Regions from separate parts of the Homo sapiens genome. Here region 2 is linked to region 1. The links come from fine-mapping of genetic effects on plasma protein levels. A gene starts in region 1. The other region holds a variant in brackets. All regions are shown on one strand. Distances are from middle to middle.

Region 1 (9,905 bases):
ATAAATAATGAATTAATCTCTGGATTGGTCACTTTTGAATTCCTTACCTCGCAGCTCTGAACACACATTGTTTTTAGACCATAGGGTCATTCTCAGGGTATGCTTAAGTTGAGTTATTGCTGCTGGTAGGTACATCTGCCATACGTGCCATTAACTTCATGATTTTGGGTAAGTGATTTTATCTCAAGTCTTCTTTTCAAATTAAGGTATGGAGGGGAGGGCTAGAAGGTTGCAGAGGTGAAAGAGGTGGGTGGATTAGATTGTTGAGGTTCATTCCACCACTAAGATATTAAGATTCCCTCTGGAACTTCTTTGAAGCTGGATCTATCGTTCTTCTTCTACAACAGAGGTAGAGTGACGCTGTGACCCTTAGGACAGTACATAAAGGTCAGAGGGCCAGCTGATTGTAAGGCTGAGTCTCATTGGGGCTATTATTATGATCTTTGAGTGGTAGAGTTATCTAGACAAACTTTAGAGAGTCATTTAGCTATTAGGTTGCTTTATTACAATTTTGTTTCCAATTTTCCTATGAGAAAAGATAAAAGGAGATAAAATCATGAAATCTTTATAGCATGAAAAGCATTTACTTGGGGTAAATCAGAGCTTAATATCTAGTTCAAAAGAGTGATTTTAAGTGTTGTTCTTCGACAGCAGTATTAGGATCACCTGATAACTTATTTGAAATGCAAATTCTCAGACCTACCTTATCAGAAATTCTGGATGAAGCCCAGCAACCTGTGTTTTCAGGAGCCTTCCAGGGGATTCCGCTGCATGATTCAGTTTGAGAATCATTGCCCTAATGTTGCTGCATTGAACAGTTGGGAAGCTTTTATTGGTTTGCGTGGAGATGGGAAAGGGTAAGATCTTCTTCCTAAGGCAGAACTCAAGGAATTACTAGGTCTGCAGAATACCTCAGGGAGAGGCTATGAGCAAGGAGGTCTCCCCATCTGAAATCCAAAGCTTCTCATTGGGCTTGACATCTTGACATCTTTTTATTCTTTTTTTCTTTTTGAGACGGGTGTCCCTCTGTCACCCAGGCTGGAGTGCAGTGGCTCGATCTCTGCTCACTACAACCTCCGCCTCTCAGGTTCAAGCAATTCTCTTGCCTCAGCCTCCTAAGTAGCTGGGATTACAGGCATGCGCCACCACGCCTGGCTAATTTTTTTTTTTTTTTTTTTTTTTTTTTTTTTTTTTTTAGTAGAGACGGGGTTTCAGCGTGTTGGTCAGGCTGGTCTCAAACTCCTGACCTCGTGATCCACCCGCCTTGCCCTCCCAAAGTGATGTGATTACAGGCGTGAGCCAGCACACCCGGCCGACATCTTTCCATTCTTAAGAAGATAGAGCCAATATCTGACAGTTGGTGTGGTCAGGGTGCAGGCTGAGACCCAAGCTCACAGAGATCCCTGATATTTCCCTTTCCCTGGCTCTTTTCTGCCTATGAAACAGATGATTGGAATTGTTAAAAGAGCATGGATTCGAATCCCACTCTGCCAGGCCCTTATTTATCTGTGAGAACTTTGGGAAACTTCATCTTATGGAGCCTTATTTTCTTCATCTTTGGAACTAATACCTTGAGCAGTTTATGTGCTTAAAAAGTGGTTTACATACCTCACATAAAGTACTCGCAAGTACTCAATAAACACTAATTCCTTGCTCCTTGATACCCTGATAGTACAGAATGGGCCTGGCCACAGCCATTCTGACTCACTGGTGTTCAACTGTACCAGTTTTTAACTATTTTACATATCAGCTCTGCTTGTGAAAATGTAAGAATATTTTCTTATTTTTTGCAAACACATTTTCTTATAGGAAAGATGTGGGCAGACTTATTAACACAAACCTAGGATAGGTTTACAGTTTATTTAAACAGATGAAAAAATAATGTGAATATTCAAATTACTGACAAAATAAGACATTGCAAAATTGGGGCAGGGAGGGGGAAATTGGCCAAATTTGAATTTTGGTAATATGGCTATATCAAAGTAATATACTCTAGCATGATCTTTTTCTTGACATTGCCACAGGAACACCTACCTGTCAGGAAGTTAAACCAAATGTCAATGATCATGGTATCATTACTCATCCTAAGAAGCTTGACTGGCCATCACTGGGTCTGGGTGCACTTCCTAAGCAGTGGTTGAGCCTGGAATTAACCCATAGTCCCAACTAGGTGCTAGGGGGCGCTATGCTGCAGCTCTCAGACAGCCAGGTGTCCTCTGGCTATCATAACCAATGCATATCATAACCTGGATATGCATTGTGTGGAGCCCTTTGAAGTCCTTGAATCTGGTGTCCATAGATTTTTTGTTTCCAGCAGAGTATTAGTATATTAATAATTTGGTGGGGGCTCACACCTGTAAGTGGGCAGATCATTTGAGACAAGGTGGGCAGATCATTTGAGCCCAGGAGTTTGAGACCAGCCTGGGAAATATGGCAAAACTTGGCTGGGCTCAGTGGCTCACACCTGTAATTCCAGCACTTTGAGAGGCCAAGGTGGTTGGATCACCTGAGTGAGGTCAGGGGTTCGAGACCAGCCTGGCCAACATAGTGAGCCCTGTCTCTACTAAAAATACAAAAATTAGCTGGGCAGGGTGGTGCGTGCCTATAGTCTCAGCTACTCGGGAGGCTGAGGCAGCAGAATCACTTGAACCTGGGAGGTGGAGGTTGCAGTGAGCTGAGATCACATCGCTGCACTCCAGGCTGGAGACAGAGCAAGATTCCGTCTCAGCAAAACAAAAACAATAGATGTTGGTGTGGATGTGGTGAAAGGGAATGCTTATACACTGCTGGTGGAAATGTAAATTAGTACAACCTTTATGAAAAACAGTGTGAAGATTTCTCAAAGAACGAAACTGGACCTACAGTTTGATACAGCAATCCCATTACTGGGTATCTACCCAAGTGAAAAGACATCAATTTGTCAGAAGGACAACTGCATGCATATGTTTATTGCAACACAATTCACAATTGCAAAGATATAGAACCAAACTAAGTGCCCATCAACCAAAAATATGGAACTAAACTAAGTGTCCATGTCCATCAAATGATGAGTGGATAAAGAAAATGTGGTATATATACACCACGGAATACTACCCAGCCAGAAGAAAGAATGAAATAATGTATTTTGCAGCAGTTTGGGTGGAGCTGGAGGCCATTATACTAGGTGATTTAACTCAGGAATGGAAAATGAAATACTGTATGTTCTCACTTATAAATGAGAGCAAAGCTATGGGTACAAGAAGGCATATCTTTGAGAGGTATAACAGACTTTGGAGACTCACAAGTGGGGAGCTTGTGAGTCTACTAGGGAGGCTGAGGCAGGAGAATCTCTTGAACCCGGGAGGTGGAGGTTGCAGTGAGCCAAGATAGTGCCACTGCACTCCAGCCTGGGCAACAAGAGCAAAACTCCATCTCAAAATAAATAAATAAATAAATAAAGGAATAATTTGTAAAAACAAACACTGTTCAAGGGTAACTAACCAGAAAAATGAACACAACTAGACAAGGTACTCAAAAGGGCTTCCTCAAGACAGTGACATTTATTTTGGGCTTTTATAAAAACAAATTTGGATTAAAGTTGTAAGGGGACCTATTAGACAAAGAAGATAGCTGACTTTTGTGCAGGGGAAGGAAAACAGACTTTGTTTCAAATAGTTGTAGAACCTTTAAAACTATTGGCACATTTCTTCTCACACTGTAAGACTTAAGATGAACAGAAAAATGTATTTAGCAAACAATCTACTACATCTACTCCTGATGTTTTTTCTTCTAATTATTGAAAATCTCAGCTATATTTTTCTTATACAAAATAGTCCCAAAATGTTCTAATGTTGACTGTCTTTTAAAGTTGTTTTTCCTCTAAATTTTACTTGATAAATCATTTTAAATTCGTTTGTACAATTTTTGAATTTGTTCTCTTACATGACACTAGATAATTGTAGACCAGGCAAAGTTTGTATACTAACTGACTCCCTGTCTACCATCTGGTGTTCCCCGCCCCCGCCACCATAAGTGGAACAAACTTCCTTCCAAAAAAATTTACAGCAGTCACAAACTGCTGTTTATGATCATTTTAGATATAAAATTCCATAACTCAAGTTAGCATTGACATTTTATAAGTGCTGTCAAGTCACTCTAGGGAATGAAAATGAGCATCTCACTATGTGCTCTGAAGTGGGGACATATTTCTCTGCTTGTTATGGACGGTGAGAGATGGCTAAATTGAAGCAGAGAAATATTTCAGTGATGCAGAGCAAAGGTGACTTCCTGTTTTGTTTCAGGTTTTGTTTCCTTCTCCTCTCAATGAAGGCTGTGTTTTCTGACATTCGGCAATCCTTTTGCTCAGTGATTTCCCATTGAGAGGGCATAGTGTGAAGGCCTCTGCAGGTCATTCCATTTACAATATAAGCTGAAAGGGTAGAGTGGGGCGGGGGTGGGGGGAAGAGGGAGCTCATTAGTGGAAGAAGCAGACCAGGAGGGGATCTGTTTTCCATTTTCTCCTCCAGATTGAACTCATCTGGATGGAAAGGTTTTGATTGTTGTTATAATCATCATTATTACCTGCGTGATGTCGTTTTCCTACACTTTTTTTTTAAGTGTCGGGCAGAATTGTTGCTGAGAATAACAAATAATATCTGCCATGTTATCCGTGAGCAAAATCAGAAAAAAAAAGTCCAAGTGTATTAGAGCTGTTAGTTTCCACGTTAACCCTTAAGGAGCAAAGCTCAAGAGTTCTAATTCCACTAGGTGGGGGGGGCGGGAATAGAAGGAAAAAACCCCTTTTCCTTGCTTCTGGTGGCCTATTTGTAGTCATGAACAGCATTTCTTTGTTTCTCTCTCTCTTTTTTTTTTTTTTTAAAGGCAATCCTCCCCCCACCTCCTCCCCCGCAGTTATTGAAAATGGAGACCTCTGTAGTCACTAGCTCTGGGTTGATATGGCTCCACCGTTGCTCGCAGGGGTCTGTGTTTTCCGCTACTTGGACAAAGTGACATTGCTTAAGCCTTTCCCCCCACCAGGTCTGACTTTCTGCAGAGCCAGTGATTGCAGAGGAAAAGCTGTAGTTTGCTTAAAGGAAATACCTCCAGGAAGGAGGGTCTCGGGTGGGTTCCCAAGTGGGGAACTAGGGGGACTTTTCCGTAGGGAATTGGGGTGGGCTCTTCAGTGAGGGGCTAGGGGCTCGTTTCTGGGGCCAAAGACGGGTTCCCTAGTGTGAGGGCGCGCTCGACTCGGCGCTGTCTTGGGGTCTCGCACTCGCACGGCTTCGCACCCCACCGCCTGCGACTCCCAGGCCTTCTCTTCCCCGGGCGCCCACTCCATTCTCGGGAAGAGCAGCCGGCACTGGAGGGCAGAGACTGCCCCAGGGGCGGAGCTCCCTCTCAGGCGGGAGGTAGGAAAGTGCAGAGCCGCCCGGGCAGAGGCACAGACGTCCCTGCGGGGCTCCTCCTGAGCGTCCCTCCTGCCAGCCAGGGTCGCAGCCGCAGCGGCGGCCGCAGCTCTTAGCCCACACAGGACTTGTAAACTCTTACTGCACCCTTCTCTCCCATTAGGAGCTTTTCCTCCCTCCTTCCCCCCAACCCCTCTGTCCTCCTCACTTTGGGGAATTTAATGCTTTCTTTAGCATCTTTTTGTGTGCGTGATCTAGGGGAGGAGACACCCCAGAGCTCCAACTAGCTCTCAGCTGAATTCTACTTTTGTTTTTATGTCTTCCTCGCCTCCTCTCGTGTCCCTCTTATCTGACTGATCTGCGAAGTCTGATGCTTCTGCCAGAGGGAGAGGAATAAATAGATGTTGCTGCTTCCGAAGGCTTAGACGTTGGGAAAGAGCAGCCTGGGCGGCAGGGGCGGTGGCTGGAGCTCGGTAAAGCTCGTGGGACCCCATTGGGGGAATTTGATCCAAGGAAGCGGTGATTGCCGGGGGAGGAGAAGCTCCCAGATCCTTGTGTCCACTTGCAGCGGGGGAGGCGGAGACGGCGGAGCGGGCCTTTTGGCGTCCACTGCGCGGCTGCACCCTGCCCCATCCTGCCGGGATCATGGTCTGCGGCAGCCCGGGAGGGATGCTGCTGCTGCGGGCCGGGCTGCTTGCCCTGGCTGCTCTCTGCCTGCTCCGGGTGCCCGGGGCTCGGGCTGCAGCCTGTGAGCCCGTCCGCATCCCCCTGTGCAAGTCCCTGCCCTGGAACATGACTAAGATGCCCAACCACCTGCACCACAGCACTCAGGCCAACGCCATCCTGGCCATCGAGCAGTTCGAAGGTCTGCTGGGCACCCACTGCAGCCCCGATCTGCTCTTCTTCCTCTGTGCCATGTACGCGCCCATCTGCACCATTGACTTCCAGCACGAGCCCATCAAGCCCTGTAAGTCTGTGTGCGAGCGGGCCCGGCAGGGCTGTGAGCCCATACTCATCAAGTACCGCCACTCGTGGCCGGAGAACCTGGCCTGCGAGGAGCTGCCAGTGTACGACAGGGGCGTGTGCATCTCTCCCGAGGCCATCGTTACTGCGGACGGAGCTGGTGAGTTTTGACACGGCCCACCCTTCCCTTACCCTACAGCCTCCTCAATTCTTGGAGTCCTTGTTACTAGCCTTTACTCTCTAATTTTTTTCTCTTCGGATCACTTAATCTCTCCCATAACTGCTCCTCTATCAAAGACCCTTCTTCTTCTTTCTTCTTTTTTCAAAAACAAAAACAAAAAAACCCTCACCTTATCACCTTCCAAACTGATGCACTCTGGCACTGTGTTCCAATAGGCGATCTTTCTAAAACAATCCATGCATTCCAAACCCATCACACTTCTACTCCACAGGAATCCTTCACTTCAACTCCTTACATGTGCAAGTAGCCACATTTTGTAAAGTGATGCTCTTTTTCTTTTAAAATGTGTTTATAATCATTGGGTTTTCTTTGCTGATTCTCAGGCAATCTCAGTCATCAGGTTTCTGTATCTTTAGTGTCTTAGATGCTTGTTAAGATTGTGTGGAGGAAACAGAAAACTGAAGCCCCATTTTCTTCTAATTAAAAATGCCAAGATAATTTCAATAACCTTACTCTAACCGACAGATGTTAGGGGTATGTGTTTGCTCAAGATCCAGTTTGAGCAATTACCTTCACCTTAAATTTCCCCCTCCTTTCAATGAGATAAATTGTTCTTCCATTCCAGAATGAAACAATTGTGAAACATTGCTATGCACTGTTAATTAGCTTCTGTGGCTTGCCATAGAGCTGGCAGACTGAAATTACTGAGCTCTTTTCACATGCCCACATGCCTTCAAGTCATTTTATAAGTGGCATACAGATGAAAGGAGTTATATTTAAGGCGTGTTATCATACACTCACGTAATGTTATTTTAAATCTCACCCCTTATTCCACTCTCATGTTTTGAAAAAAAAATTGTCTTTAATACCTTATTTCATGCTCCTTTTCCGTGTGTGCACCAACCACAGTCATTTCAGTCTTTCCCTACCATAAAACTTTATTGCAGCTCTAAATTTAATGGAGTCAATCACAAGTTGTTTTCTCACTAGTGTTTAGTCTAATTATGACATTTGTAACTTTAAGACCCCAACTAAACCTACTTCATTATGGTCCATTTAATTCTAACTCAGTATTACTTCTACCAACTAACCCAACCTCAAATTTTACCCTTCATATATTTTATAAAGAAGGCAATTTTTTTTCATGAGTGGTCCTCTTTCATACCACATCCCCCACCCCCCAACAACTCTGTTCTTAGATGTGTTGACTTGGTTGCCTCCATCTGTTTATTTCTTGGGCATCAACTTTCCTTCCTCTTTCAACTTGCGCAGTCTAGGCGCATGTCCCCAGTCCATTTCCAGGTAGTAATTCTTAGTTATCGGGAAATTGATTTGGAAAAATTACCTTCTGTGCACGTTGACTCATTTAACAAAGTGAGAGAAGGAGAAGTAATTGTAAAAATAGCTGAAGGAAAAAAAATAAACAGAAGAATTTCAAGAACTTTTTAATGGTGACCTCACTTAGTTTATCACTTTTTGAATATACCTATTGTCTTCTTGATTTTAATCAAGAACCAAAAGCTAGTTGTGCAAAATCATCACAGAAATGTATTTGCTATTAATCTTTGCTAAAAGAGCATGCTTGAGGCTTCGTACTCACTAAAGTCACAGACTGCAGAGTCTGGAAGTGCTCAGTGCAGTTGCCGCTCTGGTTTGCCAGGCACTTAGAATCAGTTAAATGCAGGTGCTCCTCTCAGGCCAAGGGCTAGGAATGAGGTGGCAGTGGTTCAGGCTGAAATGCATTCCTCCCCGTAAAGCACAAAACTTGCTCTTAAACCTCCCTTAGAGGTGGACCTAGAGTGAGTGAGGTTTGGCAAGGTTAATGGCTCTCAAAAAGCCATAGTCAATATGGATAGGAAGCAGTTTCATTAAGTGTCCCTGAGTTACCAATCACTGTGGAACAAACATGGAAACAGTTGCCTCATTGAAGCACTCAAATAGGACATGCATGGAAACAATTTGTCAGTTCATGGGACCTGATTTCTAAGCTTCTTTAAAATGCCAGAGTATTTGCTTTACTGGCAGCATCCTTGCTAGAAAAATAGGTGGTAGTTGGAATCATAGTTAGTGATGGCATCCCTGCTCCCTTCCATAAGCTTCAGTGTGAACCAGAGGCTATGATGGCAAGGGGAGCTCAAAGGTGGGGGGAGGTGGAAATTGGGAATGAAGTGTGTAGATTGTAGCCTGAAGGGTCTCCTGGCTTCCAGGGCCAGCTTGTTGAAAATTACATTCCCTATGCTGGGTCAAACTGTCAGACACCTGGAATTACTTAGGAACTACCACATGTGGCCAGTGTAATTTACCATGCAATATCCAATATACTCTTTGGTTCAGTGGGAAGTGATAGTTCACAAAGCAAGGTTTTTTTCTTATTCAACTGGGTATAAACAGAATCCCTGTGTCTTTTGACTAGTATCTGTCCAACTAGATATAAAAATGAGGTCTCCCTGAATAAAATAGGACAATCTTTCACATTCTTCTGATGCCAAGAGGATTTTCAAATCCTACCCATTCATGGGGATCTGTTCTCTCATAGTATATCATGACTCCACAAACAAGCTTAGGACCTTTTACAAAGCAGTCTTACTGAAATGGAGTAATGCTTGAAACTACTTTTTGCTTTCAAAATACTAAGGGTAATCATATTTTTGAAAAGAACGGGTTCCATCCTGACCATTATTATTCATCTTACACATTTTATATTTGCATAACTTTGTGTGACTACATGTACAACTGATTATCTGAAAACTCAGCTCAATTGAGTCATTCAGCAAGTTAGTGATGACATTCAGTCAAATCTTTAATATTGTGTGGTGAGTAAAGAGGATAGGCTTGGAGTGGGGCAGACCAGGTGTGAATGACTCTGCCCCGACATCAACTATTGTTATAGGAAAATTATATGACCTCTGTAATTCAAAGTTTTCTTATCTGTAAAATTAGGACAAAACTATCTACATCCCAAGGGCATGGTAAAGATGAAATTAAAGCTGGTGCAGTGGCTCACTCCTGTAATCTCAGCACTTTGGAAGGCCGAGGCGGGTGGATCACTTGAGGTCAGGAGTTGGAGACCAGCTTGGCCAACATGGTGAAACCCTGTCTCTACTAAAAATACAAAAATTAGCCTGGGATGGTGGTGCGTGCCTGTCGTCCCAGCTACTCCAGGAAACTGAGGCAAGGGACTCACTTGAACTCCGGAGGTGGAGGTTGCAGTGACCTGAGATGGCGCCACTGCACTCCAGACTGAGCGACAGAGCCAGACTGTGTTTCAAAAAAAAAAAAAGAAAAGAAAAGAAAAGAAATTAAACAGCATATAAAGCATTGCTTTAGTACTTAGTAAGCACTGAAAAAAGTGCTGCTGCTGTTTTACTATTATCACT
Region 2 (8,845 bases), 34 kb after region 1:
ATCTAACTACAGTTGCCCTAATGTCTCTTCACAAGGAGTCTAGCTGTAGTCCAGTCCTGGTAGGGTGGTTTCATGTTGTCAGGCTCCTTCTAGCTTATCACTCTACCATTTTTAAAGGCATCGCTTTCATACTCATGTTCACCTGGAGGTCACAAGATGGCTGCTCTGCCTCTAGTATCACATGTACATTTCAGGCAGGAAAAAGAGGAGGTAAAAGGGATTTCCAAGAGCCTCATCAAGCAGTTTTTACTTAGCTGCAAAACAGGCTAGAAAATGTAGTCTTTTTAAACCTGGGGATATTGCTTCTTTGAACAAACTGCAGTTTGTGAGAAGGGGAGAATAAATGATGGGAAGGAAAATAAACAATGATGTCCGATGAATAAACAGCAATTCCTATGTACAAAGTGTAGCTACATTCATCTGTATAGAAGAGATCTGAATAAATTAGGTCCTTAGAGCAGTAATGTAGCCTTATTTTTAAGCCAAATAACTCTTAGATTGTGGAATTGATACATTTTTTAAAATCACATAGTACAGTACTGTATTATAGAAGGTTTTGTTTCTTCTTACTGCACTAAGCAAATCTGTTTTAAAGAAAAGAATGGGGTGGGGGAATGCATGGGGGGACAAAAAAATCTCAAAGGATGTGTGGGTGGGTGGGGGGAGTGGGAACTGTACCAAACATAATACATCCTCTTCCTTCTGCAAGTTTGAAGGCTTGGGAAACATTTACATGGTAAGTTAAACACCCCTGGGCGGTTTATCTTATACATCTGGCACTTGACACGGCAGACACGTTTGGGTTTAAGTGACCTACAAAAATGTAGAGGGCATTATTTTGTAAGGAGAAACTACCCTCCAGTAAGTTCTTCTCCCCTTTAGTAGATTTGTCAAAAGGGAGATGCATTTCAAGTTCAGACTTGCGGGCATTCTCTCTGCATCTCTCTTCAATTAGTTTGGTGTTTATTAAAGAAAAAAGTGGCTCTTGTTCAGTATGTTGGAATCTCTTACTGTCTTTAATTTGGTTTTCTGCTTGCTAATGCAGAACTGGAATTTGTCCTAAATTCCTGTACCAGTTGGAAAAGCTTTCAATATCCCTGCTGCGAAGCATGTAACAAGGCTTACTGCTCCTCTTTTGGTACCAAAACAATATCATTGTGTTGTTGACAGGACACATGGCTTGTTTGTCCTGTTTCCCATTGCTTTCTGCAATATTTCCCATTGTTTTCCGCAGGGGACTTGCAGAGTTATTATTGTAAAGTCATTTATATTCTCAGTCTGGATTTAAATATTCTAAAGGAAAGAAACCAATAATTTGAACAATTTTAAATTCATATGCAGATATTGAGGGCTAAAGAGTTTGGGTAGAAAATCTCCTTTGGCCAGAATTATTGAGATTCCTATTTTAGTTTTCCAGTCAATTTGAAGATGTGTAAAAAGAGTTTTATGGAGGATGTTATTTTTTCAATCAGATTTGCTCTTAGCTGAGTTTTGCTCTCAGTGGATGAATCAATAATTTTATAAGAAACATTATTATGTTTTTTTCATGCAAATGGTTGTTTACCTAAGTCTCTTATAGCAGACGATTCAAGATGTTTGGACTTCCTTGGGAAGTTGAGAATCAGACTGTTTTTAAAATATGAAGACAAGATTGTGGAGTAAAGAATACTGAAATGAAGAATTACCTTCAGTAACAGAAAAACAATAACACATTTACTATGTGCTAAGCACTTTATATTTTTATTAATCTTCAGATGTATCTACTTATAAGTAGATTCTATTATCAGTTCCAACATATACATGATGAAAATGAGGTCTAGTAAGTTCAAGAAACTTCACACAGTAAGTGGTGGAGTTAGAATTTGAACTTGGGCCATCTGACCCAAGGATCTGATGGTGCTTGCTCTTTAAAGTGTGGTCCCTGGATCAGCAACATAGGTATCACCTGGGAGCTTGTTAGTAATGAAAATCTTCGGCCCTGTCTCAGACCTGCTAAATGAGAATTTGCAATTTTAACAAATTCCCCATATGATATCCGTGTTTGAAGTTTGGGAAGTACAGCTGTAGTTCGTATTCCCTACCTATCCTCATGTAATATAACTTCCATTTAACTTAAATTACATGAAAATATTATTGACATTGTTAATATGAAATATTACTAAACTTGATTGTGTTTATTAAAAACATTGCTAATACCTGCTTTGTAACACTTAGAACGAGGGCAGGACCTTGTCTGTTTTATTCATTGTACTTAGTGGATATTACTTAGAAAAATATTTTTGAGACCCCCCCATCCCTCAAAAAAATTTCCATTTTTTTTTCACTGCTCAAATCACATAGACTTTAAAAGGCTATGTTCTTATGTGTATTAAGAGAGGATGTTGAAAAATAGCCTTCCCTTCAAATTCTGTGTGTAAATCTTCCATTTGTTGAGTATCTGTGAAGCACTAGCCTCCTGTATGTTACCTCAGGAAATACCCAGAGATATAGGGAGATATTTCTGTCATCATTTATAGACATGGACATTTTAAGTTTAAGGTTTGATAAGAAAGCATTACTAAATACATTATAGATGTTGCGCTTGTTAAAGTCAGAGAATAATGTTCATATTGCATCAGTTTTCTTGTTACCCTGGGAAATAGATTGATACTTTTGGAAAAGTAGCAAAATGCTTCAGAGATCTGAACTTGCAGTCTGACCCAGTTGTTAGAATCATGGAAATAATGACCCTGGTGATATGTGCTTGTGACTATTTTCTATTTTAAATTTCACAGCGCTGGGATA[T/C]GAAGCTTCGTCATCTTGGACTCAGTAAAAGTGATTCTAGCAATAGTGATTCCACTCAGAGTCAGAAGTCTGGCAGGAACTCGAACCCCCGGCAAGCACGCAACTAAATCCCGAAATACAAAAAGTAACACAGTGGACTTCCTATTAAGACTTACTTGCATTGCTGGACTAGCAAAGGAAAATTGCACTATTGCACATCATATTCTATTGTTTACTATAAAAATCATGTGATAACTGATTATTACTTCTGTTTCTCTTTTGGTTTCTGCTTCTCTCTTCTCTCAACCCCTTTGTAATGGTTTGGGGGCAGACTCTTAAGTATATTGTGAGTTTTCTATTTCACTAATCATGAGAAAAACTGTTCTTTTGCAATAATAATAAATTAAACATGCTGTTACCAGAGCCTCTTTGCTGGAGTCTCCAGATGTTAATTTACTTTCTGCACCCCAATTGGGAATGCAATATTGGATGAAAAGAGAGGTTTCTGGTATTCACAGAAAGCTAGATATGCCTTAAAACATACTCTGCCGATCTAATTACAGCCTTATTTTTGTATGCCTTTTGGGCATTCTCCTCATGCTTAGAAAGTTCCAAATGTTTATAAAGGTAAAATGGCAGTTTGAAGTCAAATGTCACATAGGCAAAGCAATCAAGCACCAGGAAGTGTTTATGAGGAAACAACACCCAAGATGAATTATTTTTGAGACTGTCAGGAAGTAAAATAAATAGGAGCTTAAGAAAGAACATTTTGCCTGATTGAGAAGCACAACTGAAACCAGTAGCCGCTGGGGTGTTAATGGTAGCATTCTTCTTTTGGCAATACATTTGATTTGTTCATGAATATATTAATCAGCATTAGAGAAATGAATTATAACTAGACATCTGCTGTTATCACCATAGTTTTGTTTAATTTGCTTCCTTTTAAATAAACCCATTGGTGAAAGTCTTTTTTTTTCTCTTCTTTTAAAATAAATCAGAATTGCCGTATTGACCAGGAAAAGATTATGTATGCACGTGCACCAGGGTTAGTTTTTAAAAGTACATGGCTCCATAAAAATGCTGTAGATTACAGAGTGATAAAATATGCAGGTTTTTTTGTTTTTGTTTTTTCTGTTGTGTGTGTGTCTGTATTTGTGTACATGTGTGTCCTTGCACTCACACCCAAGGTGGATTAAAATACAGGCCTGCAAACTGGCCTGCACTTTATCATTTGGATTTGTGCTGCTTAATGCTCAGCGAAAAATGTCTAGTAAAATGAATTATGGTTGTCAGGAGAGAGGTTATTTCGACTTTTGAACCAATTGCACATTTCTCATTACCCAAGCTGTGGTGAGATCCCAGGGGCTGTGGTGAACAAATGATGCTTTTATAGATGGTCCCTAGCTTACAATGATTCAATTTACAATGCTTCAATTTAACAATTTGTTGACTTACAATGGGTTTATCAGGATGTAACCCAATGCATTTCAACTTACGATATTTTCAGTTTCGAATGGGTTTATCCAGATGTAACCCCATCGTAAATGGCGGAGCATCTGTACTTCCTTCCTCTGGCAGAGTTCCTTAGAGCCTGTGCCAATTACTTGAAAGTTTCATTCTCTGCCATTTACATGTGTGCTATTAGTAGAACCAAATTTCTAAGCTGTGGCGTGCTGAAAATAAAATGCTTATGAAGCAAAAATCGTGCTATGTTTCCTTCTACAAGGATAATCAAGCAAGGATGAAATTCATTCCTGAACAAAAGTTTCCTAAAATGGTAAATAATCATCTATCTAAATGTTCTATTTTAAAAGTGTGAGCTGGGTGTGGTGAGTGCACCTGTAATCCCCACTACTTGGGAGGCTGAGGAAGGAAGACGGCTAGAGCCCATGAGGTTGAAGCTGCAGTAAGCTATGATTGCGGCCACTGTACTCCAGCGTAGGCGATAGAGCATGACCCTGTCTCTGTAACAACAACAAAAGTGTGAAAGTTCATTCTACAAATTGGAGTCACTCATATCATACCCAACTAAAATGGAGTCGGGAGGCCATGGGGAAAGGCACCCAGGTCCCTGTTCCAGGAACCATTTTTGCAGTTCAACAGAAAAATCACGAAGACCTAACTCTAACCTTAAGATAAAGTTACCTAGCTGCTGCCACTCACCAATCAGAACTTGCTAGATCCTACAAGACGCGCCTGGCTCCAGTGAACTTTCATTCAAAACCATTTAGATCACCTTCCTCTCTTCCCCAATAAAACCCCAGCCTTTCTCTTTGTTCTTTGAACACAACTAGAGGCTACACTGGTTTGTGTGCCCAGAATTACAATTCCAATTCTTATATTCCCAAATAAACCCTTTACTTGGAGATTTATCTCCCTATATTTAAAGGTGACAGAGTAAGGGAACATTCCTGCCTTCTGATTGACTCTCCAAAGCCAACAATTTCCCCAGCCCCAGAAGAAAACATTCCCACCTTTGCCTATAGGACTGCATAGTCTTTTGAGCTTCCAAAAGACCACTTCCAAAGGGCTTGCCATCTGCCCATTGTTGCTATATTCTCAGATGGCAAGGACATCTCTTTTGAGGTGCTGATGTCCTACCCTTAAAAGGTGAGTTGGGTGTCACTGGGGAGTAATGAAGCGCCACCGTGGATGGACTGCCCCTGAGAATCTCTCTTCCTGGTATGTAAGCCTCAACTTGAGCCTGAGGACAGAGGGGTGGAAAGTAGTGCTGGTGCCTCAGCCTGTTTTCCTCAGGCTTTCTCACGTTAACTCTGTAAAGAAGGACAAGAATTGACTACAGGAGAGGTTTAAAGGAACCGTTATCTCAAATCCACAAACCTCAACTCTCTCAATGCACAGTAAGCAATGTTAAGTAAGGAACTCTTTTGATGTATAAAAGCTGCAGATGTTTCCAGCTTCTGCAGTTTTTTTTGGGGGGTGGGGGTTGGGTAAAGGGGGTATGATCAGTTTCTGTGTAGGAATTTGACACACTTTATGCTTAATATAAACAAAACACGGCCAGATTCTTAGATTCAGCAGTTTTTTTTTTTTTTAAACCACCTTCCATTCGGTGCCATTTTACAACCTACTGTTTTACCACTACCATCTATAGTGGCAATGTTTGATTTTGCTCACCTATATGAGGCTTCTGTCAGCTGTTTAAACATTTCTAATGGTATAAAGCCCATGAATAAAGTACATTTGGTTTTTCAGTTTGATAGCTACAATATCTTCATTAATAAACTGTGCAGACCTCTTTTGGGAGGATGGCGTGATTTATCATGATGGTCACGTTTCTCAGGAGACTGCAAAACCATTTCTACTCTAGTTGCCATAGTACAAAGACACCTCGTTAATGCCTCTCTATAGGGTTTTCTTGCAGATAGTAACTTTTAAAGCCACTAAAAATTTAATATACATGCATCCTTGTCAGTAACCTTGAGATTGATAAAATTTATATTTCTTTAAAAAATTTTATTCAACTTTAGGATTTTAATTTTCTTAGCCAAATTAAAGTCAGATGCATGCTGAATAAAGTAGCAAATACTTAAATAGCAGCAAACATGGATTCTCTTTTCATGGATATGTATTTTACTGTGTCACATACAATGTAATCTGATTCAGTGCCATATGTTGCACCCAGCATTCAGGGATGGGGTGAGACAAACTGTCTTTCCACATGTGTTACACATTAAGAAGGCAAAAACAAAAGTTATAATCACTGTGAGCAAATAGCACTACCTATTGCCTTCTGCAAGAAATTATTTGCTGTTACATTTCAACAAGTAAAATGACTAAAGGTATTTCAAGATTGACATTTAGCACTGAGTTTTAACATATTTTAATACACAAAAATTCAAGAAGATGGTAAAAATAAAGCAGAGACTTCTAATATGGTGTTACTGAAATCCAGCCTATAAAATTTAAAAGTATGGTACCCAGATGTATTAATATTAACAAAAACAGTATAGTCATACCTTTCATAATTATCTGTTTGGGGTAATAACATCTAACAGTGGCTGGAACTCTATATGAAACACTTGTGCATATGTTACCTCACTTATTCCTTGAAAGTTGTTGAAGTAGATGTTTTATTCCCATATAACAGATTTTTTTTTTTTAAATGAGTATTTAGAACTTCAGAGTTGTGTAAGTAGCAGAGCTGGGCCTTAGATCCTCATAATCTTATTTCCCAAATTATATGTTTTCCACCACTGCAATTTCTGATAAAAAGGTAAATGCATCCTAGCACTGTAAAAAAAGAAAAAGCATAGTGTCAGGCATATAGTGGTAGCTATTGCTATTATTGGATTATAATAAATAATAATATAAATATAACAATAGCTATTATTTCTTAAACTGAGGTCTACCAACTATGTTAGAAAGCCTATATAATATAGGCCCAACTCTAATCCAAGATACAGTCACTTCACATCTTCAGGTGTCCTCCCTTATGAAATCAGAATTTCAGTAGAATTATTTCCATACAGACAGGCAGGTGAATTAAGTAATTTTGGGGGCATTAGTTGTTTAAAAATGTGTGACTCTCAGAAAAGCATTTTTCAAGGTTTCTGTTTTCCCTTGAATTTGTAGAAAAGTAAACAGTTAATTGTATTCAACAACACCTGGAAGAAAGTTGAAATTAAAAGTTGATAATTATTACAAATAAAACGAGAACGACTACTTCCACTGGGAACTCCCATTTCTCCTTTTTAGATTATGCCCCCTATGTTTCCCACCACCAGAGTCCTCCATAATCTAGAAAAACTATTCCACCTGACCTAATTCCCCCTGCTTTTCATTCATTAAGTATTTTCACTATGACAGGGATTCAACATGTTAATACAACTAAATATGTTTTTCTTCCGATGAAATGCAAACGTTTGTCATGTTTCTACTTAGGTGGTTGTTGAGAACTTGAGGAGTTGTCCCATGAAGAAGGAAAGGTTGTGCTCAAGGAAATTTGTCCAAAAAAAAAAAAAAGGATTTGTGGGCTGTTGAGGAAACTGACACAGAAATGAAAGAAAATGCGGGAAAGAATTTTCTACTCACCACAGGGATGTGGAGGGGAATGACCCCACTCATTACACAGTGGTACTGTGGCCACTCTTGCAAACAGCCACCACCTCCCTCCCCACACACTTAGCATCACGATGTGAGGTTGATGTTATGATTGCAGGGTTGGACTTAGGATAGTCTGGGGCCTCAGCAAGGGTGGGTCGGGTGATGTCTGAAACATAGGATAGCTCTGAGATGTTAAGAAGTCAATGAAACAGGGAACAAAGGATTTCTTGTTTATACTGGGTGGTAAATCCAATAAATAAAGCAGATGCAGTTCACTCTAATGTCTTTATTTCTACATTATTTTGGTGATTCTGAGGGAATCATGGCTTCCCAGAGATGGTATTCCTGTCCTAGCACTGAAAAGAAGAATTTGAGTTGAACTGTGGGACAACTTGGCAAAAGGAGAGATCAATATGAACAAAATTCCTATTGGAAAACTTTCTCTACGACCTAAAACTCAAGTAATATATCAAAGCTTTAAAAGATGCATGATACTCCAGGTGAAGTCTTCTGCCAAAAAAAAAAAAAAAACATGTTTAAATTTGGCCTTTTCTTTCCTTCTCATTAATTACTGGAATTGCCATGAGTCCCTTGCTCTGTGAAGGTTTCTCTTTCTTTGAAAATTCAAGATATGGTGTCTTGTAAGTGATCTAACCAGCCAGCTCTTTCTAATAAAACATGGCCTAAGATAAGAAAAACAAACAAAACAAACAAACCAAAAACAGAAAAAAAAAAACCCGTGATGCTCAGAAAATATTATACCCACAAATACTGAATTGTCCTGTCTGCTCACATTCATCTCTTTCCCTCCTGGCCATTCTTGCCTATTCTGCTTTTCCTCATATTGCTTGGCTAATTAAATCAAACACATAGCTACAGGAATATTTTCAGAATTGCTAGAAGATCAGGCATGATGCAAATATCTGATATTCTTTAAATCCATTGATCAATATCCATGATGCTCATTTCGATTCCTTTCAGGTCATCAGCTCAGGCAGTCTTGTCCTGAGGTTTT

Alleles and levels. Positions count from the first base shown, and alleles are read on the strand shown. Strength reflects both the effect of a copy and how common the allele is.
In carriers of allele C in region 2, the plasma level of the protein whose gene starts at base 5,945 in region 1 tends to be higher than with T alone (weak association).

The links. PIP is the chance, under the fine-mapping model, that this variant and not a neighbour inherited with it causes the effect. Protein levels are from antibody-based Olink assays in UK Biobank. Linkage for the fine-mapping came from a reference panel and not from the study's own genotypes, which makes the PIPs less certain.
Region 2: its variant is fine-mapped to the plasma level of the FRZB protein (UK Biobank, PIP above 0.99). The variant lies in the coding sequence of FRZB. If it changes the protein, the assay may bind it differently, which can mimic a change of level.

Annotation. Positions count from the first base shown.
Region 1 is chr2:182,862,677-182,872,581 of GRCh38, reverse strand. FRZB (frizzled related protein) reads left to right here and starts at 5,945. Exons shown (of 6, transcript NM_001463.4): 1 at 5,945-6,507. The coding sequence starts at 6,030. RefSeq lists an enhancer at 5,814-6,782.
Region 2 is chr2:182,828,895-182,837,739 of GRCh38, reverse strand. It overlaps FRZB (frizzled related protein), which reads left to right. Exons shown (of 6, transcript NM_001463.4): 6 at 2,775-4,465. The coding sequence ends at 2,891. Among named protein-coding and RNA genes, the nearest start is that of FRZB, 33 kb to the left of the region's middle. The variant T/C (reference allele first, on the strand shown) is at 2,785.